4 linked regions of the Homo sapiens genome follow. The protein of the gene in region 2 purifies or fractionates together with the protein of the main gene of each other region. This does not show direct contact. Each region holds a gene or a part of one and is shown on either strand. Other genes may lie near its edges.

What was found.
Region 1: the proteins of PKP1 (region 2) and POC5 purify together in Homo sapiens (co-immunoprecipitation; one large-scale study listed by IntAct). This does not show direct contact.
Region 3: the proteins of PKP1 (region 2) and JADE1 purify together in Homo sapiens (affinity purification with mass spectrometry; one large-scale study listed by BioGRID and IntAct). This does not show direct contact.
Region 4: the proteins of PKP1 (region 2) and ANXA2 purify together in Homo sapiens (affinity purification with mass spectrometry, with the first as the bait; one large-scale study listed by BioGRID). This does not show direct contact.

What each region holds. Positions count from the first base shown.
Region 1 is NC_000005.10:75,688,894-75,693,983, forward strand, and holds part of POC5 (centrosomal protein POC5), read right to left. Parts: intron 3,608-5,090; coding exon 3,503-3,607; intron 1,670-3,502; coding exon 1,490-1,669; intron 273-1,489; coding exon 119-272; intron 1-118. UniProt on the Homo sapiens protein: Essential for the assembly of the distal half of centrioles, required for centriole elongation. Acts as a negative regulator of centriole elongation.
Region 2 is NC_000001.11:201,321,038-201,326,127, forward strand, and holds part of PKP1 (plakophilin-1), read left to right. Parts: intron 1-940; coding exon 941-1,096; intron 1,097-1,975; coding exon 1,976-2,152; intron 2,153-3,390; coding exon 3,391-3,544; intron 3,545-3,903; coding exon 3,904-4,090; intron 4,091-4,716; coding exon 4,717-4,801; intron 4,802-5,090. UniProt on the Homo sapiens protein: A component of desmosome cell-cell junctions which are required for positive regulation of cellular adhesion.
Region 3 is NC_000004.12:128,815,654-128,820,743, reverse strand, and holds part of JADE1 (protein Jade-1), read right to left. Parts: intron 4,297-5,090; exon of another isoform or gene 4,281-4,296; intron 1-4,280.
Region 4 is NC_000015.10:60,348,775-60,353,532, forward strand, and holds part of ANXA2 (annexin A2), read right to left. Parts: intron 3,703-4,758; coding exon 3,609-3,702; intron 3,046-3,608; coding exon 2,950-3,045; intron 2,478-2,949; coding exon 2,419-2,477; intron 424-2,418; coding exon 301-423; intron 1-300. UniProt on the Homo sapiens protein: Calcium-regulated membrane-binding protein whose affinity for calcium is greatly enhanced by anionic phospholipids. It binds two calcium ions with high affinity. May be involved in heat-stress response.

The sequences.
Region 1 (5,090 bases), on a different chromosome or scaffold from region 2:
AGCACCTGGATGAAACATACCTACTGCAGATTATTTGTACTGTAGACCATACCAATCACCAAAATCTCCTCAAATCTTTTTTTGAAATTAGGCAGAGAAACTTTAATGAAATACTAACCTGCATCATTTCTGTTTTGAAATATAGTCATGGCTTCAAGATTTAATGCACATACACCCCTCATGAAAGCTTTTTTCATGGAATCTTCAAAGTGCTCTTTTTCATGTTGCATTCTTTGAATCTCAGCTTTTGCATTTTCCAAAGCTCCAGATAACTAAAATAAGAATGTTTAAAAAGCAAAACAATTTGAGATACAAAGAAGAATACTGTCAAAAAAATAGATATATACTTTGAGATTATTCTCATGTGAAATATTAAAAAGTTTGTCACTTACCTCTTCTGCTATGTGCAATTTATTTTAAAAGGTACCTCTTACCTCTATTATCTCCATCAACAAAATGCTTTCATTCCTAACCTTAAAATCAAGGTTCAAACAAGGGGAATTTTATCCAGTCCCATTGAATATTGCTGATGTATTTTCATTTCACAAAAAGATACACCATTTTTTACTGTAAAACTTTTATGTAGGATGTTAAACAAAATACATTAAGAGCCACAGACAGCCCTTTCAGAAAAAAATAAAATAAACTACATGCCTGCAATATTAACAGAATTTTTATAATGTAAATGTTACCTTCAGTATTTGAAGTGCAGAGTGACCCTAGGTACAACACACTTTCCCATAGGCCAAACCTCAGGGGACTGCATTTTTTGCATGTCGTAGTGAACTGCAGAAAATTATTTGTATTATGGATTTATTTTTAATCTTAACAATTTAATGCTGTAATGAGTTATTTTTTCATTTTAATATTTAACTTCAAGAGGCCTATTGCATTCTTTAGAATGGATTTTATTTCATTTCAATTCCAAATGTTTTCCCATGAAAACAATGTTAATTTTATTATTAAAAGTCAATGGGAAAAAATAATTTCAATTTCTTTTTTTCTTTTTTGAGATGGATTTCTGCTCTTGTTGCCTAGGTTGGAGTGCAACAGTGTGATATAGCTCACTGCAACTTCTGCCTCCCAGGTTCAAAAGATTATCCTGCCTCAGCCTCCCGAGTAGCGGGTATTATAGGCATGTGCCACCATACCCAGCTAATTTTTTTAGTAGAGACGGGGTTTCACCATGTTGACCAGGCTGGTCTCAAACTCCTGACTCAGGTGATCTGCCCGCCTCGGCCTCCCAAAGTGCTGGGTCTACAGGAGTGAGGCACCGCGCCCAACTAATAATTTCAATTTCTATACAACTCCTTATATCAACCATGTAAGAATATACAATAAACATTAAATTAACACAAGAATAAACGTTTTCATTTTTTTGTCTGCATTCTTGATTAAAGACCAAAAGAAGAAGTCTATTAATTAATAGTGAGTCTATCTATCTTTTTATTGTATTAGAAGAAAGTGAAAACCAGAAAAAGATGCTTACCATAGCAACTTTGGCTTCATAATCATTGGAAATCTGGATACAAACTTCTTCAGCTCTTGCTTGACAAGCTCTTTCTACCACATCTTTCCACTGCTTTTGCACTACGGAACGCCAGACTTTCCAGACTTTCTTCAGTAAAGTTCTCTGGTAGTACTGGTCAGCTAGTTTACCTTCATAAACCTAAATAAAAGTAAAATATAACTTCAAAAACACAGTTGATTGATAAATATATTGGTAGTAATAATAAACATAACATGGTGGTAAGTGTACATATACACATTATTTAATTCTATGTAATCATATTATTCTCATCTTGCATATAGGAGAACAGGCTTAGAGAGGTTAAGCAAGCTACGTAGTTCACATAAGTAGATGAGTAAAGCCAGACTTGCCTGACTCCAGAGACTGAGCTCTTATCCATTACATCATTGCTTTATGCAACTAATCAAGTTAGAGAAAAAGAATACAACCAAATGAAAGAAAATGAGCAAATCACCACTTGCCATCTTAGTTATGAATTTAGCAGGACCAGGAGAATAACAGAGTGGCTAGAAGGCAGGAAATGGTGGTGGCTGTGGCTTCAGATGACACTGCTTTCTCTTCAGTTTGATGGCCACCACAAGCAAGATTTAATTTATAAACCCTGCCATCATATATGGTGCCAATCCAAATAAAAACTTATGCTATTTTTCTTTTATCAATGAATTTAAATTCTTTTGAAGAAGTAGTTCCAATTCTCAATTTCTTCAGTTTGAAAAACTATCCAAAAGTGACAGTAGCCTCAACTATTCTGGCTAACATTTAAAAATAAATATGTATTCTCATTATTTCACTTGACAAGTTTCAAAGTAGAGTATAAATATTCATTTTAACCAGCTTACTTAATGTGGATTTAATCTACTGGGATTAATTAAAAAAATGAAAAATCCAGAAAGTATTCTTAAAGGAGAAATCTTATTCCAGGATAAAGTAGGTTGAGCATCTCTAATCCAAAAATCTGAAACTTTTTGAGTGTCAGCATGACACCACAAGTGAAAAATTCCACACAGAAGTACTTAACACAAACTTTGTTTCATGCATAAAATTATTAAAAATATTGTATACAATTACCTTAGGCTATATGTATAAGGTGAAATATGAAACATAAATGAATTTTGTGCATAAGGTGTGATATGAAACATAATCTAAAATCCAAAATTCTCCTGGTGCCAAACATTTTGGATAAGGGATACTCAACCTGTACTAGCTTTTTCCTTAAATACTAATCTCTTGGAAACTAAATACACAGAGATTATTCCATAGCTCACATGAATATACATGGAAAGCATATATATATATATTCATCTCCTATATTCATGTGTCTCTAAACTATGTCTTGTTGTGGGATATACTCATACTTTTCCACTTTTGATACAACAATTTAGTATTCTCTTTCAGTTCACTATTTACTGATATACCAACTCAGCTCTTACTTAAAATAAAAGATGTTCAAGTTTAAATGATATACTACAAGCTAAGGATAACTTTTAAAAAGCTGTACAGGTATGGCTTTCTCTGACTCTCACTCTAAGGCAAGTCTACATAACAAACATTTATACTGTGATTTAATGTATAAATATAGTAAAGCCTCTTTATGAATAAGTTGTATTCAGGCATTTTAAAAGTAGAAACAATATAGGAAGCATTTGATATGTTAAACATAACTTCTTTCTCCAATAACCACATCTGAGGGGGTTCTATTACCAGGGCCTTTACAATTTAGGAACAATCCTTATTAACCTACTATGAAGCAGGAAATGATGTATCTATTGTAATATATATATATTATATGTCAATAAGATCTAAACTGTATTTTTTCCAAACTACATCAAAATCAAATTCCTTTGAAATAAGAGGAACATTAAATCACAAATTCATTTTGACTTATTAGAAAACAACTATAATAAGTGATCCTGAGCACTTCTGAATTCAGAAGTCTAACATCCATCAGCTGTCTTCTGCTTTGACACTTACATCCTGTCTGGCTCTGACATGGCCGATTCGCCAGTGGAAGAATGTTCTCATCAACTCTATCTTTTCCTTTTGCTTGCCTATGGCATGAGACAAGCTAGAAATCACCTGTAAACAGCAATTAACCCAATTATTGTGATATTAAAATAACAGCAATTGGTAAAGTGATTTTCTCATATATCAAAAAATGCTAGAGAGGATAGGTATGGATCACTACTATATTCATTCAGTTAACCTCATTATTATCTTTAAAAAGATGGTAAAACTTTCTCACATGAATATACTAGATATCAACTAATGAAAGGGAACAAAAGAAGAAGGAAGTCTTCATTATGTGTATATGGTAATCACCAATAAAAAGTTTATGTATATGCAAATTAGCTACTGACATTCAATTCAGGTAAAACAATTATACATTTGAAAGTTCTCCTATATACACCATGTCTTTATTCACTAGATTTGAGGGCAGGGGCCAGAATATTTAGATATTTAAATATCTTTCTGGTCCCTACTACTATCTTGGATATAGAAGTTCCTCAACGACTGTCCAATGATTTTCTGGATTAAACAAACCTATAAAAGCAAATAATAGTTATATATGTAACTATTAATATGTTATAGTTATATATATAACTATATATTATATATGTTATATATACCTATTAATAACATGTTATACATATAACTATTAATAACATATATAACATATGTCATACATAAAATGTTATATATATAAGTAAATATATATAATTAATGTTATACATATAACATATTAATAACATTATATATAACTAATGTTATTAATGTTATATGTTGATGTACTTCTTCAGTGATATTATTACTCTTGTTCTTAAAAAAAAATTCAGAAGGCTTTAAAATCCTAAGATAATATTCTCTCTTATAAAAGAACTGAATAACTGAAATAAATTTCTAAAAATAGTCACATTAGAAAGAGATTTTGTAAATTGGGCACATTTACCAAGAGATATTTATAACTGCTCTTTAAATAATTTCCAGAGAGGAAAAGGGCATACATTCTAAGCTACTGGAAATATTCTATGTGTTAAGCTGAATCGTAGTACCTGTCTATCCACTTTACTCATTCTCATAAACTGAACATATGATATCTATATTCTTTGTGATACTTCAAAATAAAAAAATTAAACTTAAAAACCATGGGACAGAATTTTGAGTATAACAAAGAAAATGACTGACATTAAAATCCATTGTTTCAAAAAAAATTCTATAAAATGTTCAATTTTATACGAAATCAAGGTATGTTTAAAAAAATTATAATCTTTAATTCATGAAAACACTTAAGTGCTACTTCTGCAGACAAGCAGCTGAGGTGTCTGCCCAAGTCCTCCTCTTCTGAACAACACCACTCTCCTATCCATAAGTGGATGCCCCTCCGGACATCCATTTATAGCCGGGCACAGATTTGTTGCCCATCTGCTTTGCTCCAGGTACTGTGTCAGGAGGCAAAAAATTAGCACAGACTTGAATCTTACCCTCGAATTCTTAAGAAGCTAAAGGAAAGTGAAATAAAAGATGTTTTCTGTGTTTATCAATAAAATGAAGAAAGCCTTCA
Region 2 (5,090 bases):
ACAGTGGCTCAGGAGATAGTGAGGCCCAGCAGGCTCCAGATCGCCAGGGAACGGGCTGACATCACAGCACCTGGGTTCTCAGCACAGTTGCCGTAAGGAGGGATTTTATCTCCTGCTCCCTCCACTGGAAGCAACAGCAGGGCCACAGAGGAGAGCCTTGTCACTGGGCTGCTCAGCCTGCTTCCAAAGGGCAAGATGCTTTTCTGCTCTGTGTGCAATATCTCCAACACCTGTGTAACCCCAAGCCCTGGAAGTCAGATTCCCTTAGACCCCAGCAAGGGCCAAACATCATTAGGAGGGTAAATCTGCTGCCCCCAAACCCTAGTCCTTTGGAGGTTTGCCAAAGGAGATTGACAAAGATCTGAGCCCAGCTGCCATGATGAAGCCCTGGGCTCCAGGTGTTGCTGTGTTTTGTGTGGACTTAGCACCGCTGACATTGACAGCTAAGGACTGGCCCCAGGAAGAAAGAATGATGGGGGCACTAGATGGCTTTGGAATCTAGAGGCATGGGGCTTCTTCTGGAGGAGTTTGTTCTGGAAAAAAAAAAAGACACATTCTTCAATATCCCAGTCTGCCCATTGGCATGTTGTCCATAGCAGTCCTACCACACACTAGGCCCTGTGATAAGTGCTTTCTCTGTATCATCTTCCAAATAGCCTAGTGAAATGGACAATTGTAGTCTCATTTTACATTTGAGATAGCTGAGGCCCAGAGAAGTGAGGCCAGTCAAGTTCATGCAGCCAGGAAATGACAGATTCAAACTCAGGTCCCAGAGGTGGCCCTGGAAGACTTCCCAGGCTGATAGTGTGGTGGTGCCTGCGCTCATCTTTCCCGATGCAGCCCAGGTGCCTCTGCTCTCTTATTAGCTAGGGTAGGTGGTAGGCCAGGAGCCTGTCGGGCCGGGCAGAGGCTCAGGCCCATGCCTCTCCTTGGTCCCCAGTCTGTGGAAAACTGCATGTGTGTTCTGCACAACCTCTCCTACCGCCTGGACGCCGAGGTGCCCACCCGCTACCGCCAGCTGGAGTATAACGCCCGCAACGCCTACACCGAGAAGTCCTCCACTGGCTGCTTCAGCAACAAGAGCGACAAGATGATGGTGAGCACAGCATCAGCAGGGCGGGGCCTGCCCCATCAAGCACCCCCCCAGGAGCCACTGCCTCATCTGCCCTTTCCTCTGGGCCCTCCTGGAGCCTGAAGCCAGCCCTAAGGGACAGGCCCATGCTGACACCTTGGCCTGGGGCTCAGGGTGCACTCTGGGAGCTGGGTAGAGGCCATTCATCTTGCACAAGGGGGAATCTGTTCTTGGAACTGTAGGGGCTCAGACCACCTTAGAGGTCAAAAACTCCAGCCTTCTGTTTGCAGGCCTTGGTCTTTCTTCCTGTATAGTGGGTCAAGTCTCCCCCATCTTCTCCCTTGCCCTTGAGGATCTGAGGAAAGCCAGAACTCTCACTCTTTCTGGCCTTGGTTCCCACCATCTCCTGAGCCCTGCCAGGTTTCCCCAGAAGCAGAAGCCTACCAGGGATGGGTTGTCAGGTCTCCTTCACTGGGCCCAGCTGTGGAATCCAGGTCTCAGACCACCCTCTTTGGCCCAGGGTGGGTCAAACCTACTGTCTGAGTCTGGAAGAGGAGGAAGCATCATGATGGGAGAGTCCAAAGCAGCCCCACATATCTGGAAGGTTTGGGCCAAGGCTGCCCTGGAACACAGCTCCCAAGATGCCAGGATGCTCTCTTCTCCCACATCCTGGGACAGTCTGGGGGACCATGGCCCATTCCTGCATCCCATGGAGCTGCTGCAGTGCATAGAGGAAAGGGGTGCAGCGGGGCTGTCCTGGGCCCCCTGCCTCTGCAGGCGCTTCCTCAGCTTGCCCTATCTGGAACCACGACCCTGAGGCTGGGGGGATGGGGACAGAATGCCTGGGTTGTGTCCTCTCACAAGGCTCCCCATTGACCCCCCTGACCGGCTCTTTATCCTCAGAACAACAACTATGACTGCCCCCTGCCTGAGGAAGAGACCAACCCCAAGGGCAGCGGCTGGTTGTACCATTCAGATGCCATCCGCACCTACCTGAACCTCATGGGCAAGAGCAAGAAAGATGCTACCCTGGAGGCCTGTGCTGGTGCCCTGCAGAACCTGACAGCCAGCAAGGGGCTGGTGAGTGGGACTGTACCTTCTCTACTGCAGCAGCCCCATCCTCCAGCCACCGTCCAGCCTCTGCTCCCTCCTTTTCCCCCCAGCCTGTCCCCTGACTTCGGAGCCTCCCATGAGCAGAGTGTGCCTGGCATATGCTGGGCTCTGGGCTGGGCAATGGGGAAACACTCCTGCCCTTTAGGAGCTGCTGGGGGATGCAGAGAGGGTGGGCCCACTGATGCTGGATTCTGTCCATGCACACACAATCCCCTTGGCCACATGGCTCCCGGTCCCCAGCTGGCCTCCTGGGCTCTGCTTGAGGTCGGGGAATGCGGCGGAGAAGGTGTTTGGCAAAAGGAGTTTCCCATTTGTTGAACTGACAAAGGTGGAAAAAGAGGGTTTGGGGTCCAAGCAGGTCCAGAGAAGATGTGACAGAATCCGTGCAGATGTTGAGGCCAAATGTATGTAGCTTGGAGGGCACAGTGGTATGGGGCAGAGCCAGAGGAAACCTGTTGCAATCAAGAAGAGTTGAGATGGGCCAGGCGGCCAACTGTTCTTCAGCTTTACTTAGGAAAAGGGAACCGAGCAGCAGCAGCACTAGAGTAGACCGAGGGCAGAGAACTTCCCTGGCTGTGAGGAGAGAGGCTGGGCAGTTCTGAGAATGCCAAACCCACCTAGACCTGTTACACCCAGGATAGCTATGTTGCTTAGAGGCCTGGGCGAACTGGCCTACCTCTAGGGGACCCCAGTTCTCTCTCCATGTGGGCCCAGACCCTTTCTTAGCCCTCTTTTCTCAGGCAAGCCCTCAACAAATATGTGTTGGATTCTAAAGAGGTAGGAAAGTTGGAAGAAGATGGCCAGATGTTTAATTGACAAATACCCTTGACCATATAGTTTCACATGGGCAGATAGCGTGGGGAGATGTAATGGGGGCAGCGCTGAGACAGTGGGGTGAGAGAGCAGCATTGGACGCTTGGGTTACTCTGGAAGCTAACTCTGGGTCACTATGAGTAGGGGAAATGAGACTTCCCTCTCTCCACCCATCTGGGCTGCAGGCTGATCCAGGAGACAGGATCAGGGCTGGGAAAGGGGAGGTGCATGTTAGCCTAGGTTTCTGTAGTTGCCCACATGTGAGCTAGTGCTTCCAATATGAAAGAGAAAGGGTTCTGGGATGTCTGCCTTTGGGGCTCCTTGCCCCTTTCTGCCTGCCATGGTGCCTGGGAAGCCACAGGCTAGCTCATCATCTACTCCTTCTCTCTTAGATGTCCAGTGGCATGAGCCAGTTGATTGGGCTGAAGGAAAAGGGCCTGCCACAAATTGCCCGCCTCCTGCAATCTGGCAACTCTGATGTGGTGCGGTCCGGAGCCTCCCTCCTGAGCAACATGTCCCGCCACCCTCTGCTGCACAGAGTGATGGGTAAGGTCCCTCTCTCTCCTCCCCCTCTAGCTAAGACATGGCAGGCTCCCTACAATTCAAGCCTGCTTGAAGGTCATCCTTTAAGCCATTCCCTGGGATGAGCATTCCAAGAAAGGAAGCTGGCCAAAGACAGGTATGGAGACAGGAGAAGGGAGCCTGTCACCTGAGGGCTGGGAGCAGATCTGCAAAAGTCCTATCTGGGTCTCTGAGCCCTGAGTTGGAGCTGCCAGGAAGCCCTGAGGGCCACCTGGCTCAGAGCCCGGCAGAAGGCTATCGAAGAGTGTGGCCCCAGAGGGAACCCCTCAGCCCTTCCTTCCCCAGTCATCCTGACCCTGTGCCCCAACTCGTTCCTCTCCCAGGGAACCAGGTGTTCCCGGAGGTGACCAGGCTCCTCACCAGCCACACTGGCAATACCAGCAACTCCGAAGACATCTTGTCCTCGGCCTGCTACACTGTGAGGAACCTGATGGCCTCGCAGCCACAACTGGCCAAGCAGTACTTCTCCAGCAGCATGCTCAACAACATCATCAACCTGTGCCGAAGCAGGTGGGCGGGGGGTTGCTCCCACGGGCTGCACCCCAATCAGAGCCCCTCCTCACCCTGCACAGCAGGAAGCAGTCCCGCAGCTCTCCATGGAGTAGGGGAAGCACCAAGGGCAGGGGGAGCCAGGGACGGGGGAGGCTTGAATGGAGGAGAAGTTCCAGAAGCCGAGAGTGCGTGGAGAGAAGGGTCCAGCATCCAGGCCCCAGGGCTGCATGGAGGGAAGAGGCAACACACTTCCTGGCTGGGGGACTCGGGGGCACAAGGTCCTCAGAGGGCCAGCAGGAGGCATGGGGCAGCAGGTCCAACTGAATAGGGACTTTATCCTGCTCTGTGGGGCTCTCTCTTCCCCGGACAAGGCTGGGGACTGGAGTGGAAGAGCACTGCCACCTCATGGCCCCTGAGGAGAGTCCTGGGGTGCTCTAGGTGGGCAGGGGCATGGGGTTGTGCCCACTGGGTAGGGTGACCAGGCTCACCACACCCCAATGGGGCTCCTCTCTTTTGCACACCTGAGGCCTCCTCTGAGGCCTCCCCTGTGTCCAGGCCCTGGCAGTGGGGGTGGGAGGGAAGAGGGTGCTCCTTCTCACACCTCCTGGAATCTCATCTCACAAATGCACTTCTCACCTGCCCAGTGCCTCACCCAAGGCCGCAGAAGCTGCCCGGCTTCTCCTGTCTGACATGTGGTCCAGCAAGGAACTGCAGGGTGTCCTCAGACAGGTAAGAGCCCAGGACATCATCCTCTTCTGAGGTTCTTCCTGCTCATGAGCAGAGGGCCTGGCATATGCTGGGCTCTGGGCTGGGCACTAGAGAAACGCCCCTGCCCTTCGGGACAGTCTGAGAGACAAAGACAGCGTCTACGTGAAAATGAATGTGATGAACGTTCTGATCAAGTCTCTGGGCTCTGAGATCTGCGAGGGATGCTGAGAACATGGAGGGCAGAGGAAATCAAGGAAATGTGTGAGAGGCCTGGGGTGGGATCCTTTAGGAGCAAACTGAAAAACAGAGT
Region 3 (5,090 bases), on a different chromosome or scaffold from region 2:
CCACTAACAATGTTAAGTCACCAAAAATTTTTAAAGTACTGTTTTAAAAAAAAAAAAGAGAGAGACTCCCAATGTTGTATATTTGAAAACCTAGATGACACACTTGACAAAAACAACATTTACACAATCATCCAAGTTACATATGAAAACAAACGTTTCATCACAATTGTACAAGCCTCGTTATTATGATCATGGAAACCTAAGTTGGTCTCAAACCTAGAAGCAAGGTCTAGAAAGCACTCTCTGAGGCTGAAGTCTCAGTCTCACAACGTAGACTCTGCCTACAAGTCTCACAACACAGATTGTGTCTAGAAGAAATCTTCCCAAAAGAAAGCCAGGCGTGGTGGCTCACGCCTGTAATCCCAGCACTTTGGGAGGGTGAGGTGGGTGGATCACTTGAGGTCAGGAGTTCAAGACCAGCCTGACCAATATGGTGAAACCCTGCCTCTACCAAAAATACAAAAATTAGCCAGGCATGGTGGCACATGCCTGTAATCCCAGCTACTTGGGAGGCTGAAGCAGGAGAATTGCATGAACCCAGGAGATGGAGGTTGCAGTGAGCCAAGATCATGCCACTGCACTCCAACCTGGGTGACAAAGCAAGACTCCATCTCAAAAAAAAAAAGAAATCTTCCCAAAAGAAACCCATAAAATCATAATTAACTGCAGAGCTAGAGAGGATTTCAAAAACAATTTAAAATAATTTAATCCACCTTTCCTACTTTTAAAGAGGAGTACATGGATTTCTGCATGTTTATCAACTTGCACAAACACACATAAGTAGATCTAGTGCAAAGGCAGTGGAAGAACCAAAGACCAGTTCCCCAGGTGGGTGGAGGGGCACTCTCCTCCTGTGCCAGCCACCTCCTCCCAGATTCCTGGACTATGGGCTTCTTCCTCCTGGATGTACACTGGGATTTAAAAAGAGGTCATGTGAATGACTAAGGCCATGATACGTTATCAGAGAGCAAAAACTGAAAATGTAATCAATGAACAACAGTCTGTTAACTTGAAAACTGAAACACAGATTCATGGCAAGATGGTCACAAATGCCATTCATTTTGCATAGTGAAGCACACAAAAGGTAAAGCTGGAAGAATGTGTCAGCAGTTCCTTAAACACTACCACAGGAGTATGAGTTCTCCCGGAGTGGTAGGCATTAACTTCTGATTGCTGTGACACATACACCCTACTTGACATTATCTCCCTCTGTAGTGGAACACAATCTTATAATACATATCCTCTTACACAGGTCTTCTTAGCTTGACCCCCCCGGAGGGTGTGAGAGATGACCAAGGTATTTGTTCTTACACATTTTATCCTCAAAAGGGATCTAGGATCAGAATCCCAGCTACTCCAGAAGCTAAGGCAGGAGAACTGCCTGAGACCAGAAGGTTGCTGAGCCGTGATCGTGCCACTGCACTACTGCCTGAGCAGCAGAGAGAGCCTGCCCCCCAAAAAAAAAACCACCATTGCACTCCAGCCTGGGCAAAAAGAGCGAAACAAAAACAACCCACAGCCCTCAGCGTAGCCAACTACCTCCAAACAAACTTCTAATTTCAACTTGCATTTTCAGGTTCCTAGAAGGGAGCTCAGCCACCAGCAGAAACAATCAAGTAGCTGCTGTGTCTTACTATAAATCTGGGGAGGCCAGGGAGTGATGGCCAAAGTGGGCAGAACCTTTGAGCTCAGGAGTTCGAGAACAAAGAAACATAGCAAACCCCATCTCTACAAAAAATACAAAAAACTAGCCAGGCCTGGTGTGGGATGCCTGCAGTCCCAGCTACTGGGGAGGCTGAGATGGGAGGATCAAGTGAGCCCTGGAATTTACACCACTGCACTCCAGCCTGGACAACAGGGTGAGACCCTGTCTCAAATCAATCAATCAACCAATCAGGGGTCAACAGCCTGTTTCTGTATGGTTTTTGAGCTAAGAGTGATTTTCACATATTGAAATGGTTGAGGGTAGAGGGCCAAAGAACATTTCATGACATACAAAATTCATAAAAATTTTACATTTCTATATCCATAAATATCACTTTCACATTCATTTTGCCCATGGTTGCTCTGGCACAACTGCAGACTTGAGCAGTTGCGACAGACCATATGACCCACAAAACCTAAAATATTGACTACCTGGCTCTTTACAGAGAAAGGCAACTGATCTGTCCTATAAATCAACCGATCAGTAGTATGATGTTTATAAACCACCATTATGCGTGTTTAGTTCAATGTGAATCAATTACCAGGTGCTGGACAAGCAACCGAAAGCTTACAAAATTAAGGATCAGACACAATCACTCCTTAGGAAGTCCCTAACTATGGCCGGCCATGGTGGCTCACGTTTCTAATCCCACCACTTGGGGAGGCTGAGGCGGGTGCATCACCTGAGGTCAAGAGTTCGAGACCAGCCTGGCCAACATGGTGAAACCTCGTCTCTACTAAAAATACAAAAATTAGCAGGGCATGGTGGCACACGCCTGTAATCCCAGCTACTCGGGAGGCTGAGGCAGGAGAATTGCTTGAACCCAGGAGACAGACGTTGCAGTGAGCCCAGATCATGCCACTGCACTCCATCCTGCATAACAGAGCAAGACTCTATCTCAAAAAAAAAAAAGAAGTCCCTAACTAGAATAATCAAAAGGAAGGCATTGAGGAGACCTCTAAGCAACTTAAATAAAGGCCACAGTAAAACCAGTGGGTTTTTCTCAAAAGAAAACCCCTGAGGCTCCTACTTGGAGCCAGTGTACACAAGTTTTAAAAACTTCTAACAGGCTTCTTATTTGATTTTCAAGTTAATGACCAATAAGCAGAAAAATCACTGTTCTCAACAGGCATTTTAACTACAATACATGGTAACAGTGGCAGTAAAAGGATCACAGAGAAATCATAAAAAGAAGTCACCAGAATTTAAACACTTAAACTAGAATCCAAGGATGTGCTTAAGGAAACACCCATGTTTTCTGGGGGAGAGCTTCCATGGGTTTCAGTGTCAAGTGTCCCCAACTTAAAAAGTTACAACCACCAACACTCAGCCTCTATATGTTAAGTGCATCATGGCATTTCCACATGGAAGTAACTGATGCTCGTAAAGATTATGACAAAGAGTAATCAATAAAAAATTTAAATTGCATTTAGTGTACTTTGTGCTAAATTAAAGCAAGCCATGAAGTTCAACCTCAAGCAACTTGCTAATAACATTGCTATTTCTTGTTCCTTACCCTGGTTTAAGTGGGAAACAAACAAACAAAAAGATTATTTTATGCCTCAGTGTGGACCCACACCACTGAAATCTTCACTTAAAGTAAGTCCTTATAAACTCTCATGGAAGATGCCATGAATTCTCAAAATAATAAAATCTCCTGCACAGGAGACACTAAATGATCAATAGTTTAAAATATTACTTCCACCAGCCACACAGGTGCACACTTGTAATCGCAGTTAGGAAGCCAGGGCGGGAGGACTCAGCTCTGGAGTTCAAGACTAGCCTGGGCAACCTGAGCAACATAGTGAAACCTCATCTCTCTAACAAAAAATACAAAGAGACAGATGTCAATTGTGAGCGCTTTCAAAGTAATAGAAAACTGGCCAGTCATGGTGGTTCACACCTGTAATCTAGCACTTTGGGAGGCCGAGGTAGGTGGGTCACTTGAGGTCAGGAGTTTGAGACCAGCCTGGCCAACATGGTAAAACCCCGTCTCTACTAAAAATACAAAAATTAGACAGACACGGCGGCATGCGCCTGTGATCCCAGCTACTCCGGAGGCTGACTCACTTGAACCCACTGCAGTGAGCCGAGATCCCACCACTGCACTCCACCCTGGGTGACAGAGCAAGAACTTGTCTCAAAAAAAAAAAAAGAGAGAGAAAATGTAGTTTACTTCCCTCAACAAGTAAGCCCAAAAAAATCTAAGGTTTTAAAAATTAACTTTCTTCAACTGCTCTCTATCACATTATGTCCTACCTCTACCTGAAGAACTAAAGGCAAAAAGTAAATACTGAATTCGTTTTAGAGTAACCAAAATTTGGTCACTGAACATTTACTGTGTGCACATCGTACACTATGGGTCTAAGGGATTAAACGTAAAAATACATGGCCCCTTTCCTAGTGATAAAGGCTTTCCAGTCCAAGTCTGGTAATCTTTATGTTTGTGCTTTGAGGTGAGGAAAGGATCCTTAATAATCATTCAAGTCCTGGGCTAGGAAAGGCCCCATCATAGCCAAAGTTTTTAGCATCAATTTCTTCCATTCTATTCCATGACACCCAACCTTAAACTTACAAATTGTCACTTCTATGTGTAATTAAAAAGGCCCTCCAAGGTCATTTTCTTGCATTTATTAGGAGAGCAGAGTAACTTGCTTCATCAGGGCTATGAACTGCAAAAAAAGAAAAAATAAAAATAATGCATACACCCTCATGATCACAAACCAAAGTTTTCATATGAGAAATACACTAGGCAAAGGACAATAGACTCAATAGACTCAACTAAATCTCAACTTCTGAGATATTACATTCCACAAACATAAAAAGAATTGTCCAGATTGTAAATACATGGTCATATAAAGTGCTGCAAGGACTTGAAAACGGAGAAAACAGATTTAAGACTTTTAAGGAAACAACTTACCTGTCTCAGGAATTAAAATACTTTCCTAATTTAAGATTGCTGATACCTTCTAAGAAACCAGAAACTCCAAGCAAACCCACCCTTCATGTTTAAAAAAAAAAAAAAAGTATTGTTGAATATGGTGCCAATTCTCTAAAGGCTTGTACAAGGGAGGAAATAAGTTTAAACGTGACGTAACTTTCACCGTTTTAACAATCAAGCTAAACCTCTTAATGCCAACCCAAATAAAAAGCAAGGTGTGTTCGCTAATATGTCATATTTCCCTCTATAACTGTTTTATAAACCTCACAGGAAAACCAGTTTTATAATGCAAATTCTGACAGACCATTAACTGTAATGCTGTAACAGGTGCCCCATAATACTAAATGACAGGGAAGAGCTTCACAAACAAGAAAGTAAAGCAGCAAGCAGAACTGTGACAGATTCCTATGCCTCCTCTTCTCTGACCAAACCCTAAAGAGACAG
Region 4 (4,758 bases), on a different chromosome or scaffold from region 2:
GATCTTCCAAGCCTCTTCGGGATGTCAGCAAGCCTTGCAGGATCATCGTCATGAACACCGATGATCATTGTAGAGTAACAGATGTGAAAAATATAAAACATCTGCCTGATTGTACAAAGTCCAGGACAAATCACAAATGGTGCTTTCAAAATAAATCCCTGATAGTTGATGACTAGCATCTCTTCCCCAGAGAGTCAGAAAACAGAAAATCGCCACTCTGTCATCATTCTGCCAGGCCACCTGCCAGGGCCCGGGGTGCTCTGGACGGCAGGGCAGGCTGACACTGCACCTCGGGCTTACCTGGATATAATAGTACAGGGACTTGCCGTACTTTCTCTTGAATTCAGACCTAATTTTCAACATGTCCACTTCACTGCGGGAGACCATGATTCTGATCAGGACCTTATCTCGCGTCCCCTTGCCCTGAAAATCAAGTTGATATTTGTTACATTCGCTGAGAATGTTATCGTTAAAGAAAGCGTCTACAGGTTGAGCATCCCTGATCTGAAAATCTGAAATCTAAAATGCTCCAAAATCCAAAACTTTTTCAGTGCCGACATGATGCCACAATGAAAAATTCCACATACAGCACTTAACACAAACTGTTTCATGCACAAAATTATCAAAAGCGTTGTATAAAATTACCTTTAGGCTATGTGTGTAAGGTCTATATAAAACATAAATGAATCTCAAGTTTAGACTTGGGTCCCATCCCTAAAATATTTCATCATATATATGCAAATATTACAAAATCAAAAATAAATCTGAGATATAAAACATTCCTGGTCCCAAGCATTTTGGATAAGGGATATTAGGGCACAGTGTACACTGCCTGGGTGATAAGTACACCAAAATCTCAAAAATCACCACGAAAGAACTTATTCATGTAACCGAACACTACTTGTTTCCCAAAAACCTATAAGAAAGGAAAGACAGAGAGAGAGAGGGAAAGACAGAGAGAGAGAGAGAAAGAAAGAGAGAAAGAAAGAAAAAGGGAAGGAAGGAAGGAGAGAGAAAGAGAGAAGAAAGGGAAAGGGAAAGGAAGGAAAGGGAGGGAGGGGAAGGAAAGGGAGGGAGGTGAAGGCAGGGAGGCAGGGGAAGGCAAGGAGGCAGGAGAAGGCAGGGAGGCAGGGGAAGGCAGGGAGGCAGGGGAAGGCAGGGAGGCAGGGGAAGGCAGGGAGGCAGGGGAAGGCAGGGAGGGAGGGGAAGGCAGGGAGGCAGGGGAAGGCAGGGAGGGAGGGGAAGGCAGGGAGGCAGGGGAAGGCAGGGAGGGAGGGGAAGGCAGGGAGGCAGGGGAAGGCAGGGAGGGAGGGGAAGGCAGGGAGGGAGGGGAAGGCAGGGAGGGAGGGGAAGGCAGGGAGGGAGGGGAAGGCAGGGAGGCAGGGGAAGGCAGGGAGGGAGGGAGGAAAAAAGAAAGAAAAAAAAAGACAAGACAAGAAAAGAAAAGAAAGAAGAGCATCTGGGAATTCCAAACACACCAGGCTGTAGTCAGCACAGACTCCCACTCTATGCCACCATTCAATAAATATATACTGAGCACCTACTACTGCAAGGCTCAGTTCAAGCAGTCTGAGTCTCCATATGTAACAAGAGGTTCCTGACTCTTGCAGGCTTAGAGGGAACATGCCAACACATTTCTATCATCGCTCTGTGCCATTTCTAATGATATGTGCAATAAAGACCACTGAGTTTACTTCCAGAGCATCAGAGCGAAGGCACCAAGGGGTGCTATTTGATATGGAACTCAAAGACAGATGGCAGAGGCAGCACAGACAAGGGAGATGTTCCAGAAGGAAAATGCAAAAGCCTAGAAGCCAGAAAACACATGGCACACTTGAGGTGTAGAAAATGGGATGGGTCTACGGGAAGAGGTGGTTCGTTTAGGGAAGGGTTGTGGGGCTGTCTTTGGGGTCTGATAGACCCAGGTTCAAATCTGTCTGTGTAACTTCAAGCAGGCTGAGGTATTCTGAGCTCCATCTCTGCATTTATAAAGAAGATAATCATAAGCCTCAGAGGTTGTTATGCAATGATTTAAGGTAAAATAGTAGCACTTGTCCACTGTATAGTGGGTGCTTAATAATCGCTCCCTTCCTCGCTTGTCTTGACTCTGGCAGTAACAGGAAGAAATCACGGAGAAACCTAAGCAGGGATCAGACACGACTACCATGTCGCATTTTCTCTCTCCCATGGCACTTTACTTTTTGTCTGTACGCAAATACATGTTCAAGCAGCTGAGAGAAAGAAGACAGATTTGTGGTTCTCTCAGCTGTCACATACAACCACAGCTGACTAGTGTGTTCCTGCATCCACACAGTGGGGTCCCCTTCCTCCATCCATGAATCAAGGAGACTCAATTTGGGACCCAAAAGAAGAAAAGCTGAGTGTGGAAACACAGCTCTCTCAGCCAGCTGCCCTTACCTTCATGGAGTCATACAGCCGATCAGCAAAATACAGGGGCTTGTTCTGAATGCACTGAACTGTGGAGAGAAGAAAGGGAGTCAGCGCTGCAGCTGCTCTGGTCTCTCCTCTACCAATGAGAGAGGATGCCCTGGCCCTGGGCCACAAACCAGAAGTGACCTAATGCAATGGAAAAGGGCTGCAAAATAGGACAGGCTAAGGGAAATCTAGAAATCCTCTGCAATACTAAGTTCCACCACGGTTTTAAACCAGGGGTCTCTGAGGCCTGCAGAACCCAAGTGCATACGTGAGTTTCCACAACACACCCCTCTCTCCTCCTGTTCTCTTACTCCTCCCTGGCAACAATCTGTTACCAAGTTAGGCCTTTCTTCAGTTTTATATTCTGAAATCTATACAATTAAGACTGTAAAACTATCCAAAGCATGCATAGAAGCCACACCTCCCAAACACATTTGGATTAACAGGATGGCCATCTGTCACTTCTGCTCTGGTAGCTGATGTCTACCAGGAATGGGGGCCACATTCACTTACCCAGGTTCAGGAAAGCATTTTCCAGGTCTCCTTTAACCTCTTTCCTGATGCTTTCCAACATGTCATAAGGGCTGTAACTCTTGTACCTATCAAATACTGAGGAAAAACAACAAAGAGTTATCAGATCCGAGCCACTAGTCAAAGCTGTCAACGATCACCCACCTAGTTTTATGCACCATAATTTTTTTAAAAATTGAGGATGATCACAGCATCCTAGGAGCTTAGAGGTTACCACGGTGACCAGAGCCAACATTGGCCAAGTTTGTCGTGGAACAGCCATACCACCTGTCCTGAATGGCACTGCCCAGGCCACATATTTGGACCATCTCTATCTCCCCTGAGTGGAACCCATTCCATCCGAAAACCATAGGAAACAGTACAGAGCATGCACCAAAGTCCACTACTTCAACAAATAATGGCAAGACCAAATGATCATCAAACAAGAAGGAGCTGCAGAATAAAGCACCAAATGCAGAAACTATTTGCAAGAGAAAAGAATCCAGAATGGGAGAGAAAGGTGAGGGAAAATGGGTGAGCCTATGAGAGTGCCAAGCGGAGACAGAACCTCATTCTGGCAGACTCCATCCCAACATGGACATCCACCCAGCCGCCCCAGCCAGGGCCCCAAGGCACTGAGACTCCCTCAGCACAGTGCCCACCTTTCTGGAGGTGGGGCACGCTCCGCTCGGTCATGATGCTGATCCACTTGGGAACATCAGTTCCTTTCCTCTTCACTCCAGCGTCATAGAGATCCTACGAGTACAACCAACCAGGAAAAGTTAACTACACATCCAATGTAACGTCAAAAAAAATGTCATGCAAAAAAAACAAAAAAAGCTACACATTCAAAATGCCAAACGAGGAAAGATGATTATACTGCAGACATGGGCAGAGACCTACTATTTAGGTCAAAAGTCTTAATCACAAGCAGTCTTCCTTAGGCACAGATGGATACCATATGAGACTGCAGATAGTTCGTGAGGTCTGCTGTACAATCTCCTTCCTTGAATAAGAAAGGAGGGACCAAGAGCTTGTATTCATATAAAGAAGAACAAGTAAATGTTCATTAACACATCTGGCCCTCCTCCCTTTGGGCACATTTAGGGGCAGATAAGCTAGCAGATGTTTACTGGACAGCTACAGACCAGGCTCTCATTCTCAAGCTTCTCAGAGACTCAGGGAGTGATGGAGCTGGAAAAGGAGCCCATCTCATCTCACTTTCAGTTTCTGGAAAATTTAGGGGCTACAAGTAGCCCTAACAATGGCAGGGAGGGCAAGAGGAAGAAAGGCTTATGCAAGGGTAGATATTCATTCCGTGATCTTCCACCATCTAGGAACTGCAAAACCCAACTTCTATTACTTTATTTAAAACCCTTCTCTACTACCTGCTAGAAGTGCCGTGTGGAATATATTGAATTTTAAAACTAACATTAATTTAAATTAATTTTTTTCTGCAGCTTTTATGACTTACTTTGAGATAATCGTTGTCCCTCTGAGTAAAGAATATAGTTCATTGCAGTCTGAATAAGCTTAACAAATAGTTCTCAGAGATAATGGAACTAGAACTGGCAAAAGTCTTATTCAGCCAGAAAAGGACAGGTCTCTGCTGGCCTCCCTTTCTCCCCCACCACAACAGAGCAGTACACCATCCTGTCCCTGGCTGTGTCTCCTCCACCTTCTTCTGCTTCCCACCTGCCTGCCTGATTGGTATGCACAGCCACATTACACTCTGCAGAAACTGATGCTTCCATACAAGCAAAGCCTGAGTGAGCATATGTGAGTCACGTATTGATTCTGTAAGTAACACCA